4 linked regions of the Homo sapiens genome follow. The protein of the gene in region 3 purifies or fractionates together with the protein of the main gene of each other region. This does not show direct contact. Each region holds a gene or a part of one and is shown on either strand. Other genes may lie near its edges.

The links.
Region 1: the proteins of PFDN2 (region 3) and PFDN4 purify together in Homo sapiens (affinity purification with mass spectrometry; 7 studies listed by BioGRID and IntAct, with this or other methods). This does not show direct contact.
Region 2: the proteins of PFDN2 (region 3) and POLR3B purify together in Homo sapiens (affinity purification with mass spectrometry; 3 studies listed by BioGRID and IntAct, with this or other methods). This does not show direct contact.
Region 4: the proteins of PFDN2 (region 3) and DDB2 purify together in Homo sapiens (co-immunoprecipitation; 3 studies listed by BioGRID and IntAct, with this or other methods). This does not show direct contact.

The regions. Positions count from the first base shown.
Region 1 is NC_000020.11:54,211,087-54,214,586, forward strand, and holds part of PFDN4 (prefoldin subunit 4), read left to right. Parts: intron 1-3,264; coding exon 3,265-3,372; intron 3,373-3,500. UniProt on the Homo sapiens protein: Binds specifically to cytosolic chaperonin (c-CPN) and transfers target proteins to it. Binds to nascent polypeptide chain and promotes folding in an environment in which there are many competing pathways for nonnative proteins.
Region 2 is NC_000012.12:106,430,748-106,434,247, reverse strand, and holds part of POLR3B (DNA-directed RNA polymerase III subunit RPC2), read right to left. Parts: intron 1,931-3,500; coding exon 1,768-1,930; intron 530-1,767; coding exon 376-529; intron 1-375. UniProt on the Homo sapiens protein: Catalytic core component of RNA polymerase III (Pol III), a DNA-dependent RNA polymerase which synthesizes small non-coding RNAs using the four ribonucleoside triphosphates as substrates.
Region 3 is NC_000001.11:161,104,538-161,108,037, forward strand, and holds part of PFDN2 (prefoldin subunit 2), read right to left. Parts: intron 1-3,500. UniProt on the Homo sapiens protein: Binds specifically to cytosolic chaperonin (c-CPN) and transfers target proteins to it. Binds to nascent polypeptide chain and promotes folding in an environment in which there are many competing pathways for nonnative proteins.
Region 4 is NC_000011.10:47,231,974-47,235,473, reverse strand, and holds part of DDB2 (DNA damage-binding protein 2), read right to left. Parts: intron 2,661-3,500; coding exon 2,515-2,660; intron 902-2,514; coding exon 802-901; intron 718-801; coding exon 540-717; intron 205-539; coding exon 62-204; intron 1-61.

The sequences.
Region 1 (3,500 bases), on a different chromosome or scaffold from region 3:
ACAAAAAAACAAACAAAGAAGGTTGAATACAAATACAAAGCAAAAGTTTACATCATACAGACTTGGTAGATATGTTTTTAAAAGTAAAAATAAAAGACTGAAATTGGCCAGAATTTATTTCTAGGGACCCAGCTGTCAGTGCAGACTCCGTGTAATACCTAGACTTGGTGTGAGGCATGACTGAGTATGGTTCAGTTTCCTCCTCTAATCCCGTAAGATATTAGTTCTCAAGAAAAGAGCCCAGGGAATTTTAATTTTTACTTTGGATCCCGAGCAGGCATATTTCTCTTTGGCCTAGCAGAATTTCTTTCTAGATCTGGATCTGTTCTTTGTAATGATTTTTGATAAACAATATTCAGGATGTAAAATGCTTAGCTATCATTTGACTGACTCCATCATCAGGCTTTCTCCTACATGTTCATTTTATCAACCCTATAAGGTAGGAACTAGCCTCTCCATTTTACAGATGAGAAACCTGAGGTGGTTCCAAAGAATTGGGTAATTTGCCCAAGGTTCCTGTTTGCTTGGATTGGATTGCAGCCTGACTCTTCCCACCACTCTGTGTGCTGCCTCAGATACTATAGGATATGAGTTCTTCCTAGAGTTCTTCTGACTTTGAGAGTAGCTACAGCTGGTTTCCCTGAAGGCAGGAGTTCCTAACCTTTTGGGGTTGTGGATCCCTTTGAGAATCTGGTGAAAGCTATGAAGACCTTCCAGAAGGATGCACATACTATACATGCCATTTTGCATACAGTCTCTGGGTATATCGACCTGTCAATGTCCATTGACCACCCCCACCCCCCAGTTAAGAATTACCCACTTCTGGCTGGGCGTGGTGGCTCAAGCCTGTAATCCCAGCACTTTGGGAGGCCGAGGCTGGTGGATCACCTGAGGTTAGGAGTTCAAGACCAGCCTGGCCAACATGGTGAAACCCCTTCTCTACTAAAAATACGAAAATTAGCCGGACATGGTGGCATGTGCATGTAATCTCAGCTACTTGGGAGGCTGAGGCAGGAGAATGGCTTGAACCCGGGAAGTGGAGGTTGCAGTGAGCCAAGATCATGCTACTGCACTTCAGCCTGGGCGACAGAGTGAGACTCTGTCTCACCAAAAAAAAAAAAAAATTACCCACTTCTTGCCAAAATGCAGCTTCAAGAAATGTAGGAATGTTCTAGGACAGTGAGACTAAAACAGAAGCCTCTGTTAGCCATCAAAGGCACTGACATCTTACTGTCTGCTGTAAATGGCACTCCACTGGGCGGCATGCAGTATATTTGACTCACACATCAACTTTAGCCCTTAACCCCAGTGGGAAAACCACTGTAAAGATCTGGATACCAGGGGCCACATGTGTGCTGATGCCTGTGGTTTGGTGGGGCTACAACAGGAAATTCCTGCTTTGGAAAGACAGAAAGCAGATAGCCAAATTCTCTCTACCACATTTTGGAAACTATGTGTTTGAGTCTGATCAAGCATGATTTAGATTCAAATTCAGAAACCATGTATTAGCCTTAGTTATGTGCCAGGCAGTCCTGCACTGGATCCGTTCATGTGAATGGCTCTGTTGAGCCCTCACCAAGACAAATACATCTATAAATGCCTGTTGGGGGTTCAATATTTAAACAAAATGGCATATACTCTTCAGGCAAACAGGAACTCTTCAGAATTCTCTGCTGTCTATTTGCGTAGGGAATTGACAGTTCTCACTTAGGCAAAATGACTTGTGTGCCAAGATATAGACTTTGGTTTCTTGAGCGTAGCTCAGTGTTCCCCAACTTCCATATTCATCAAAATTATGCATACGGTTGAACACTCAAAGCTAGACATAGTGTGATGTAAAGGATTTTTTCAGGCTATCTTCTGGGTTGTTGAGGTGGGGCATAATGCATGTGAAATTGTTTCTTGGAATGAGAGCCTAACAAAGGGGAGGACTGTGTTATATTCCGACCACTGAGCTCTGTATTGCTTGACACTGCCTTTCAACCTCTGAGAAATAAAAGTTCACATACCTTAAGTCGATGGTCATGAGAGACCAGGTCAGGGATGGAGTGTGAATGTTGTGAGCTCATTACTGTTACTGCAAAAGAGCCAAAAGTAGTGTTTCAGTATGAACTATTTTTATACACACACAAATATCTTTTCTTCTTTAAACTAGAATCAGGTGCTCTGGTTTTCATTTTATAAATGGAAGGGAAACCCTAAGGAGAGTCTGGTTTTATGTTTTAGCTTTATTTTTTAAAAATATATGGTACCTCCTTGAGAATCTGATGAAAGCAGACATCCTGCTGCCTCTTCCAGATGTGCCTAAGCCTGTGTACACACTCACACACACACGTGCACACTCACAGAGACGCACGTTCACATTCAGTTACCGAGAACTCATGGACCTGTCTGACCTCTGAAGCCAGTCTGCCTGGGTTGAAATCAAGTTCCACCACCTACTGGCTCTGTGGCTTTGGCCATATTATATAAAGTGTACCTCAGTTTCTCAATCTGTAAAATAGTGCTGGTGATCCTCCCTAATAAGATGGATTGCAGGATTAGCAGAGATAATAAAGTACTTAGGAAGTTTTGGCACATAGTAAATTCAATCAGTGTTAGCTATTTTTTTATTATTTCATTGGTACTTTATGTTATCCAAGTACTCTTTATTTGCAAATTTGTAAATTTAATCACATTAAATATTAATTTTTAAATACTAAACATTCAATTTTCATCATTTTTTAGTAAAGTAGACCTTATTAAGACATTTAAACAGGTCCTACATTATAAACATAATTTTTGCTGTGAATGGAATAGAGCCACTGAAATGTACAGTGACCCTTTAGCCAGTAAGCTCATGCAAGTTTTAGCTCTAAGAAAAAAAAAACACTACTCTGAGACATTTACCAATATATTTGACCATGTAACTTTTTGTTTCCTGGGTCATCTTAATGAAAGAATGCTCCAACTTGAGAAATTCTGCTCTGTGCCAAAAGTTGGCTTTTTTTCTTTCCTTTTAAAAGGACTTATTAATTGTTCTTTATGTTTGCAATATGTTTATAGCTTAGGAATTATTTTATGGAGTATCAGAAAAGGTTATAGATTTACAAACAAACCTTAAGCTTGTGGAGCAAAAAATAAGGCATTTGTTATGTTCTGTACTTCTTGTGATTCTTGACTATATGAGTGCAAATGGCTTATTGAGTTATTGTTGAGAAATATAAAAAGCTAACTGATAACTTCTCCGTTAAAATTTTACAAAAACTTAAACACTTCTTTCAGGCTGCAGAAGATGTCAATGTTACTTTCGAAGATCAACAAAAGATAAACAAATTTGCACGGAATACAAGTAGAATCACAGAGCTGAAGGAAGAAATAGAAGTAAAAAAGGTATTGAAAATAATTATTAGAAGAATAAAATTTTTTTATACTATAGCTACTAAAACTGAACTCAGTTAACAAGTGAATATATATTTCTCTGGGCTGTTTGTTGCAGATGAATGACGCGATCCACTCTA
Region 2 (3,500 bases), on a different chromosome or scaffold from region 3:
TTCCTCATTTCTTAAATGACAAGAATAATCCAACCTCATAGGGTTGAATGAAGAAGTTAAAGCCTTACACATATAGTGTCTCCATTAAAATGACAAATGGTGGCTAGCATTAACCACTACCACAGTTGATTGTTATTAGTCATTTTTTCTGCCTTTCCCGGCAGACTGAGCTCTCTGAGGGCAGACTCTGTCTCCCATTAATCTGAATCCTCGGTACCTAATATGCATATTCATGAAGTGTTTGCTCACGGAATTAAATTTATCTTCACAATGAAAGAGGTTAAAACAGTTTCAAAAATAAAAACAAGTCTATTTCTTTCAAGAGCAAATATAAAGAGATTCTTAAAAACTCTTTTTAGTAACCTGCATATATACCTGCATAGCCTTCCCCCATCAGAAGAAATATAGACACATCGATCTGTAAGATTTGTTGAGATGGAAACAAATTCATTGATATATCCTGCTCTTCTCATGAGTCGAAATGTATTCACTAGCTTTTTGTGGTCTCGAATGACACCTAAGATGTTACCTAGGCAAAAAGAAAGAACAGGTAAGACAGAAATAAAAAATAAATGCAACCTGATTTAATATATCCAACCAATAAAAATAGTAATCAGCACTAAGCAGTTATTTGAAAATACCATTATTAACACCTGCAGCCAGTCCACAAGGTTGCAGGGAAGCAACAAAGGAAGAATGCTTAAGGGCCAGTCCTTCCACATGCAGGCTGAGGAATACTGGAAAAGTCAGCTTCATTTTCCTCATCTTTCAGCACAGTGCTGGGGCATGAACTTGGGGTCCAAACAACCTGGGTTTGAACACTGGCTCCATCACTTCCACAGGCTGGCAGTAAAGGTTAAACGAGCTGATCATTTAAAGTACTGAGAATTCTGCCTAGCACCTACTAACTGCTATTATTAAACTGCTTCTTGTTGTAATCAACATTTGTGAAATGAGGAAAATGAACTTTGCTTCCCAAGGTTAGCGGGAGGATTCAAAGAGGCACTGGGTGAAAGTGCAGAGTAAAAGCTCACTCAATGTTAGCCTCTGGGATACAATGAACTAGGCAGTCAGTTAACAGCCCTGCTGAGGCTCTGACCCCTTCCTCACCAGCAGATATAAAAAAGAGTTAATGCCTCCTAGAATGAGAGGAAGGGGGAGAGGAAGAGAGAACAGACAAGTGATAAGGGATAAGCTCATGGAGCATACTAGGGAGAGAACAGGCACACAGCACCAAATCAAAAGCAGAAAGGAAGAGAGCACACTTGCTGCTAAGTCTCTGGAAGACTTCGAAGGAGACGGGAAGAGGTATATGAAAGAAATAACTGGAGTGTGAGCCAAAGGAGAGGGATCCTCTTATCACAGGCTGCTGACATATTGATTATCAGATGGCTAGACAAAGTCAATTCATTATAAGAGTTGATCTGATAATTTTTGCAGAATGACTCCAATATTTGACTTGTACTTAAAGATACCATGTTGAACCGTATTCCACTAAGGATATGCCAGCAACTGCAAAAGGGGAGAAAGCAGCCACTTTCTGCAAAGTTACCCTTTAGCTCTGATAGCTATATCCTCTCAGAACCTTGGATAACCCAGCCAACAAAGTAACTGTTTCTGTTATCATTGTATTTTCTACCTTTAAGTGAAGGTCAACCTGGGCCCAGAATTAAAGTCTATCTGTGCTTTAAATACCAGGATAATAATGGATTCCCTCCCCCTCTTCACAGACTATCTAGGACCAACATGTCTCTATAATATACCCACCATTAAGAAAGACAAGAAACACATTTGGGTAAGAGAGCTCTTCCCCACATAATAAATTCACATCTTCTACTCCCAAGTTACTGGCTAATTTAACAATGGGTCCATCTTCCATATCAGTTGTGATGTGTGTCATAAGGGCCAAGTTTTTAACCAAACCACATGCCTAAAAAACAAAAGATGGTCATTTCTAAGAATGAACATTAGTAATACAAAGTACAGTTTACATCTGAAAATAGCTCACTACTTTGCTGGCAGCAATGCAAAGCAGTACAACTTTGTAGGGGATACTGTGGTGATTCGCACAAATGCCTTTAAAAAATATATATATCCCTTAACTCAGGGGAATTTCTCTTCATAACAAGCAAGGATATAAAATAGATTTAGATACAGAAATGCTCAGCACAGTACTATTTGTAATTGTAAATGCTGACGACATCATAAATGCCCAACAAAACTGATTACATTAACAATTACTCCCAGACATTGGAACATTACAGTCATTATGATGACATTGTATAAAATAAGTAAAGGAAAACATTAATAAATGCAGCTACATAAAAATATAAAACTTCTGGCCTGAAATGAGAGACTGTATAAAATAACTGGCCAGTGCCCTTAAGTTTCTTGGTCACGAAAGGTAAATAAAGACAGACTGAAAAACTCTTTCAGATGAAAAGAGACAAGGAGACATGACAACTAAAAACAATGTGTGATTCTGGATCAGAAAAAAGACAACAGTGGGACAACTGGCAAAATTTGAATAAGATCCATAGATTATAGTATTGTTCAATGTCATGAGGCTGATAACAGTGCTATGGTTACATAAGATGTTCACAGTTGGGAATCTAGATGAAAGATTGTGGAAAATCTTTGTACCAGTTTCATCACTTTTTTGTATATCTAAAATTATTTCAAAATGAAAAGAAAAGAAATCTTTTTAAACATCTATGCAACCCGGTACAGTTCTAAAACAAAAATACCAACAAGGACAGAATATAGCAAATAGGAAAAAAATACTTAAGACAGGTGACTTGTAAGATTGTATCTTCAGGTCTTAGAACCATCTGCTGCAGTAATGTACAAAATAGCTACTTTTTTGAAGTTAGCTGAAGCAATCTCTGGGAAATGAAATGTTTCAAAGTTCAAGATATATAAATTATGCAAAATTTGACAAACTGGATAATTTTAGTGTCAATTTCCATATGGTTTAAGATAAATTAAATAGTTTCTAAAAATCGCAGCTCTATACAGACTCCTATTTTCATCTCTTCCAAATAATAAATTCCTACACTTTGGACCCTACATCTTTTACTTGTTGTAATTATTAATTCAGCATATATTCATGGGGCCTGTACTCTAACCAAGGCTCTATGTTAGGAGCTTGAGATACAATGGTGAACCTTCCTTCCTCCAGAATTTTACAATTTAGAAGGAATAGAATCAAGTGAAACTAACAATGTTAACACAAAGGAGAAAGGACCGTGACACAGGGAGTAGCGGGTGCTATAGAAGTAAACCCATGTAAACTCCCTGGCTTGATGTTTAGGCAATTGCTTGTGTTTCCAATATAAGTGAGTCAAAATCCACATTAGGTCATGGACTGTATACTCCTAATTGGCTGTGACTGAGCCTACCTAAGGACAATAAGGAGCTGCTCAAAAAGAGCCCCTCATGAGCATGAGAGGTGGTAGGTCTTTCAATCTGCCTTCACAGTCTTATCCCCTCTGTGCATG
Region 3 (3,500 bases):
GGGCTCTAGTGATCTTCCTGCCTCAACCTCCCAAACAGCTGGGACTACAGGTGCACACCACCTAATATTTTTGTAGAGACAGGATCTTACTATGTTGCTCAGGCTGGTCTCAAACTCCTGGGCTCAAGTGCTCTGCCTGCCTCAGCCTCCCAAAGTGCTGGGATTACAGGCATGAGCCAACATGCCTGGCCTGGCCCCTTAGCTCTAGTTCGCCTTCTGCAAGGATCACATACAGCAAATATTATCCAAATGGCTGACCTGCACCACCCTTATGTCCCTTCTACTGCCAATAAACCAAGGAGTAATACTTCACCAAAAACTTGTCATTCCAGCAACCTCCTCCTTTCTCCCATCTATCACCCCTTCATCTCAAGCTACTTTAGCCATTCATTTCAACAAATGCCTTGGAAATCTAACTTATCTACAGATTGTTTTTCCTTAACCTTCATTGCCTGTCTCAAAACCATCCCATTTATATTAGCTTTTTCTCCACTGTTAATATTCTAGATCAAAATAATTCCATCTAAAAAAAAATTATGACTAAAGCAGATTCTAGATGTTCCCTCAGCACCCAAATGATCCACTTTTCTGGATGTATGTTGTTAAATACATCAAAGAAATCAGCTTAAGTGTCTAAAATTTCTGATGCCCCAACTTTTAACTCCTGGGCTCAAGTGATCCTTCTGCCTCAGCCTCCCAAGTAGCTGGGACTACAGACATGTGCCACCACGCAATTATTTTTATTTATTTTTATTTTTTGTAGAGACAGGGTCTCACCATGTTGCTCAGGCTGATCTTGAACTCCTGGCCTCAAGCAATCCTCCCACCCTGGCCTCCCAAAGAGCTGGGATTACACGCAGGAGCTACCATGCCCAGCAGAATTTATTTTCCTTAGTAATTAACAGGAATCTACTTTTCTTTTCTTTTCTTTTTTTTTCTGAGAGGAGTCTTGCTCTGTCGCCCAGGCTGGAGTGCAGTGGCGCGATCTCAGCTCATTGCAACCTCCGCCTCCCGGGTTCAAGCGATTCTCCTGCCTCAGCCTCCCAAGTAGCTGGGACTACATGTGCATACCACCACACCAAGGTAATTTTTATAATTTTAGTAGAGATGGGGGTTCCACCATATTGGTCAGGCTGGTCTTGAACTCCTGACCTCAGGTGATCCACCCACCTCAGACTCCCAAAGTGCTGGGATTACAGGCGTGAGCCACTGCACCCGCCTGAGATTTTTTTTTAATTCCAACTTTTCTTCAACATTCTTGCTAATAACTAATTTCCTCTTGTTCCATTTTATGAACTTTTAATCAAATACCAAACTAAAATCTACTTAAACATGTTGAGTTATCTACAGTTATTATGGAAAATTTCAGCCATAAGTGCACTTAAAGGAAATGAAATCTCTTAGCAGCTGATATAGTTTATGTGTCCCCTCTAAGTTTCATATTGAAATATAATCCCCAACTTTGGAGGTGGGGCCTGGTGGGAGGTGTTTGGATCATGGGGGTAGATCTCTCATGAATGACTTGGTTGCCATCCCCTTGATGATAAGTGAGTTATTGGTCTGAGTTCACACAAGATCTGGTTCTTTAAAAGTATGACACCTACCCCTCTTTATTCCTCCTGCTCCCACTATGCATAAGACACCTGTCCCCTCTTTGCCTTTCATCATGATTGGAAGCTTCCTGAGGCCACCCCAGAAGCAGATGCCATGCTTCCTGTACAGCCTACAGAACCATGAGCCAATTAAACCACTTTTCTTATAAATTACCCAGTCTCAGGTAATTATAGCAACACAAGAACGGCCTAATACAGCAGCTAACTGCAACTTAACTGTAGACTATATGTAAATAAGCCAATATTAAGCCATTTCTGGGGTCTGCCAGGTAATGAAAACAGAGAAGCTATCCTCTATTCCCACATTTTTCCTTTTAAAACATAACTTTTCTAATAGTCTTCTCCCCTATGGCTAGGACCTAATTATCCTTCCCTTTCCTTATTCCTTATTCTCTGTCTGCTGTAAGCACAGATTGACACATCAGTGTTGCGTCTCTCAACCCTATTAAATCATCATCTATGTACAAACAATTTTTTTCTTTTCTTCTTTAGACAGGGTCTTACTTGAACTCCTGATTCATCTGTTGCCCAGATGGAGTACAGTGGTGCAATCATGGCTCATTGCAGCCTTGAACTCCTGGGCTCAAGTGATCCTCCTGCCTCCACTTCTAGAGTAGTTAGGACTATATAGGCACCCATCACCACTCCTGGCTAGTTTTTTAAACTTTTTGTAGTGATGGGGTCTCACTCTGTTCCCTAGGCTGGGGTGCAGTGACACAATCATGGCTCAGTGCAGCCTTGAATTCCTGAGCTGAATGAAGCGATCCTCCTACCTCAGCCTCTTGAATGATGGGACCATTGGCATGTGCCACTATGCCCGGCTAATTTCTGTATTTTTTTGCAGAGACAGGGTTTTGCCATATTGCCCAGGCTGGTCTTGAACTCCTGGGCTCAAGTGATCCTCCCATCCTAGCCTCCCAAAGTGCTGGGATTACACGAATGAGCCACCAGGCCCATACCCTATTGATATATTTTTAAAAACTGCTTAACTAGGGCCGGGCATGATGGCTCACGCCTGTAATCCCAGCACTTTGGGAGGCTGAGGTAGATGGATCACGAGGTCAGGAGATCCAGACCATCCTGGCTAATATGGTGAAACCCGGTCTTTACTAATAATACAAAAAATTAGCCGGGTGTGGTGGCACATGCCTGTAGTCCCAGCTACTTGGGAGGCTGAGGCAGGAGAACTGCTTGAACCCAGGAGGCGGAGGTTGCAGTGAGCCGAGATCGTGCCACTGCACTCCATCCTGGCTGACAGAGCGAGACTCTGTCTCAAAAAAAAAAAAAAAAAAAAAAGCTTAACTAATCCTCTGCGTTAGAACATTTAGGTTGTTTCCAATTTTTCTGTAATAAATAGTACCAATATAAAATCTCTTTGGACAGGCCTGGCATGGTGGCTCATGCCTGTAATTCCAGCAGTTTGGTAGGCCAAGGCGGGCAGATTACTTGAGGTCAGGAGTTCACGACCAGCCTGGCCAACATGGTGAAACCCCATCTCTACTAAAAATACAAAAATTAGCCGGGCGTGGTGGTGCACACCTGTAGTCCCAGCAACTTGGGAGGCTGAGGCAGGAGAATCGCTTGAACTCGGGAGGTGAAGGTAGCAGTGAGCCTAAGATCATGCCACTGCACTCCAATCTGGGATACAGAGTGAGATTCTGTCTCAAAAAAACAAAACAAAGGCCAGGCGTGCTGGCTCACACCTGTAATCCCAGCACTTTGGGAGGCCAAAGCGGGCGGATCACCTGAGGTCAGGAGTTCGAGACCAGCCTGGCCAACATGGTGAAACCCCATCTCTACTAAAAATACAAAAAATTAGCTGGATGTGGTGGCGTGTGCCTGTAGTCCCAGCTACTTGGGAGGCTGAGGCAAAAGAATCGCTTGAAC
Region 4 (3,500 bases), on a different chromosome or scaffold from region 3:
GACCTGCTCCGGCCTCATGATCACAGCCTCCTTCTGCGAGCTCCTTCCCACCGCCACTCACCTTGATGGGTGTGAGGTGCTGGAAGTGACGGTGAGGGTGCGGGATCAGGCCCAGGGGGCAGTCCCACTGGGAAGCAGAGTAAACTCGGATCTCGCTCTTCTGGTCCGTGGTCAGGAGCCGGGCTCCATCGGGACTGAAACAAGCTGGCAAAGTGAAAAGCCCCTGAGCTGAAGGAACCACAAGCCCTCTGTGGTCCTGGCCTTGCAGGCCTTCTCCTGCAGGGGTACTCTCCCTCCCACTCCTCTCTAGACAGGAGCGGAAAGGAAGAGGTGAATCTGGGCTGTGAACAACAACAAAAAAATTCTGGAAACTCAGCAGCTGATGGGGACAGCCACAGCCACAAAGGTTCCCAGACATCAGCTTGGCAGACGCTATCAGGGGTAAAGGTTTGACGTAGTGGCTTCCACACTGAGGGAAAACCCCAGCAGTGGTCAGACAGGCAGGGTCTGCAGGAGAGATGAGGTCTGGGATATCACACCTGCGTTGACAGGATGCCTGTGCGGCAGCGAGTAGAGGAAGCTGGCTTTCCCTCTAACCTGGCGCAGGTCCCAAATTTTCACTGTTTGATCTACGGAGGCTGTGGCCAGGAACCAATCACAGCATGGGTTCAGGGCCACATGCGTCACTTTCTTTTTGTGCATTCTGAGATTCCAAAGCTGCAGAGAAGAGCTCGGTTCAGGTGGGGACACAGAACCGAGGTGGGGGTGAGGGAGGGAAAGGCAGGACCTCGGAGAACGCACCTCTTTGCCGTCCATGTTCAGCAGGATCACGTTCCCCACGTTGTCTCCTGTGACCACCATTCGGCTACTAGCAGACACATCCAGGCTACAAAACCAGATGCTGGAGGGAGAGACTGTGTTGTAAGATTCTTGGGGACAGAGATAGTCCTATTTACTCACTGTTGCCGCTCCGGTGACTAACCCACAGCGGGCATTCAATAAATATTTGTTGAATGAATGAATAACTGTCTTGCCGTGGATTCCTAGTGAGGAACATTCAGACTGCTCTACCGTCCAGACAGAGGGGATGGGATAATGGGGCTCAGAAATCTGTCTGGTTATGGCTGGGCCCAGGATCCCCAGCTCCTAAAAGTCCCTGAAGCAGACAAAGCTTATACCATAAAGCAAGCCCTGAGGCACGCCTGCCCCCCACACCCCGGGTTCTGAGCAAGCCTCCTTTACTGCTCTCTCCTTTCACTCTTCACCCTTTAGGCCAAAGGAGACACAAGCCAAAGAGGGATTGCCTGGCCCTGTTCCTCAGAGCTGGCTAGAAAAGCACTTCTGCCCCCTTCTGAACACTGGGGGAAAAAACACAACCAGGAGCTCTTCTGGTCCCTCAAACCACTGGACTGGGAGGCTGACTAGGAGGGTGCTTCAGGGATCCTGCTATTCAGCCAGAAGAGCTCAGCTCACAGTTTTTCTCTCAAACTCTCAAATCCATGCTACACTGCCTTTTGCCATCCCCTATGAATATCTTCAAGCAGGAAGATTTCTTGCGGAAGAGTAGCCTGGAGCCTTGTCTATCCAATTGCCTGCTGATTTGCGTGCGCATGCACTCCTCATCCCTGCGGGACAGCCCAGGATCCAATCCAATGCTAGTTACACCCCAGCACCCTCACTTAATTCCTCAGGGAGCAGTCAGAGTCACGGCTCTAGCTGGAAATCAAAGTGACGAGTATTCTGTAATTTTTTTTTTTTTTTTTTGAGATAGATTTTCGCTCTTGTTGCCCAGGATGGAGTGCAATGGCGCCATCTCGGCTCACTGCAACCTCTGCCTCCTGGGTTCAAGCGATTCTCTTGCTTCAGCCTCCCAAGTAGCTGGGAATTACAGGGGCCTACCACCACGCCCAGCTAATTTTTTGTATTGTTAGTAGAGATGGGGGTTTCACCATGTTGGCCAGGCTGGTCTCGAACTCCTGACCTCAGGTGATCCACCCACCTTGGCCTCCCAAAGTGCTGGGATTTCAAGCATGAGCCACTGCACCCGGCCGCATTCTGTAATTTCTCCAGCCACTTTCTCTTGGGAAGTCCAGAGCACTTTATGGAAAAGATTCCATCCATATAAGCTTCCACCCAGGAACAGGTCAGGTCATTACACCACAGTGAGTGCAGGGCATTCAGTCTCAAGTTCTGAGCTGTTGCTCCATTCTCTAGGTGGCTTTCTGGGTCCACGCCATGCTGGCTTATCTAGTGAGGGTCAAGGTCCAGTCTAATACAGGTATGACTTACAGAAGAGCTGAGGCTCCAGAACACCTTCCCAAAGCAGTAACCCACCTGGACCAAAGTGAGGGCAGCCAAGGAGCAGTTTGAGAAAGAGAAAGAAGGGCGGAAAGTGGCTGACATCTTTCCTTTCTTCCCTGGGCCAGGTTGGGTTAAGGAAATGGGATCTGGATGCTCTTGCCGGAACTACACCTAAGCTTAGAAGCCCTTTCCCCTGCTAGTTAAACTACTCACTTGATGGTGTCTGAGCTGGCAAAAACTCGTAGAATGTTGCCTTTAAAGTCTTGCAGCCTAGTTGTTCCCTCCATTGAGGAGGCGTAAAACTGGTTGGTATTGAGAGGGTTAAACTTCAGCCCAGTGATGCTCCCTCCAGCTCCAATCTAACACGAGGAAGGAAAAAGCCAGTGAGTGATGATGGGCCTGGCCGTGAGGAACCAGGCCTGGGCACACATGCTGCGCCGTCACAGAAGCACCCCTCGAGCAGCGCTTGGGGCCAGGTCAGCTTAGACACTAGGACGCTCTCTACAGGGCCTTCACTTCTTTTTCTTTTCCTTTGAAATAGGGTCTTTCTCTGTCACTTAGGCTGAAGTGCAGTGGCACAAACACGGCTCACTGCAGCCTCAATCTCCTGGGCTCAAGCGATCCTCCCACCTCAGCCTCCCAAGTGCGTGCCACCATGCCCAGCTAATTTTTCTATTTTTTTTTTTTAAGATGGGGTTTTGTCACGTTGCCCAAGCTGGTCTTGAACTCCTAAGCTCAAGCGATCCCCCTGCCACGGCTTCCCAAAGTGCTAAGATTACAGGCATGAGCCGCTTTGTCTGGCCCCTTCATTTCTTTCTTTTTTTTATTTTTATTTTTATTTTTATGTTTTTGAGATGGAGTCCTGCTCTGTCACGACCTCGGCTCACTGCAACCTCTGCCTTCCAGGTTCAAGCGATTCTCCTGCCTCAGCCTCCCAAGCAGCTGGGATTACAGGTGCCCACCACCACGCATGGCTAAATTGTATATTTTTAGTAGAGACAGGGTTTCACCATGTTGGCCAGGCTGGTCTGGAACTCCTGCCCTCAGGTAATCCGCCACCCTTGGCCTCCCAAAGTGCTGGGATTACAGGCGTGAGCCACCGTGCCCCGCCTCCCTTCATTTCTTAAGGCTTTATTTTTACTTTTTTTTTTAATTAACATATAGCAAATTTGGGATATAAAGTTCTCTGAATTTTAACA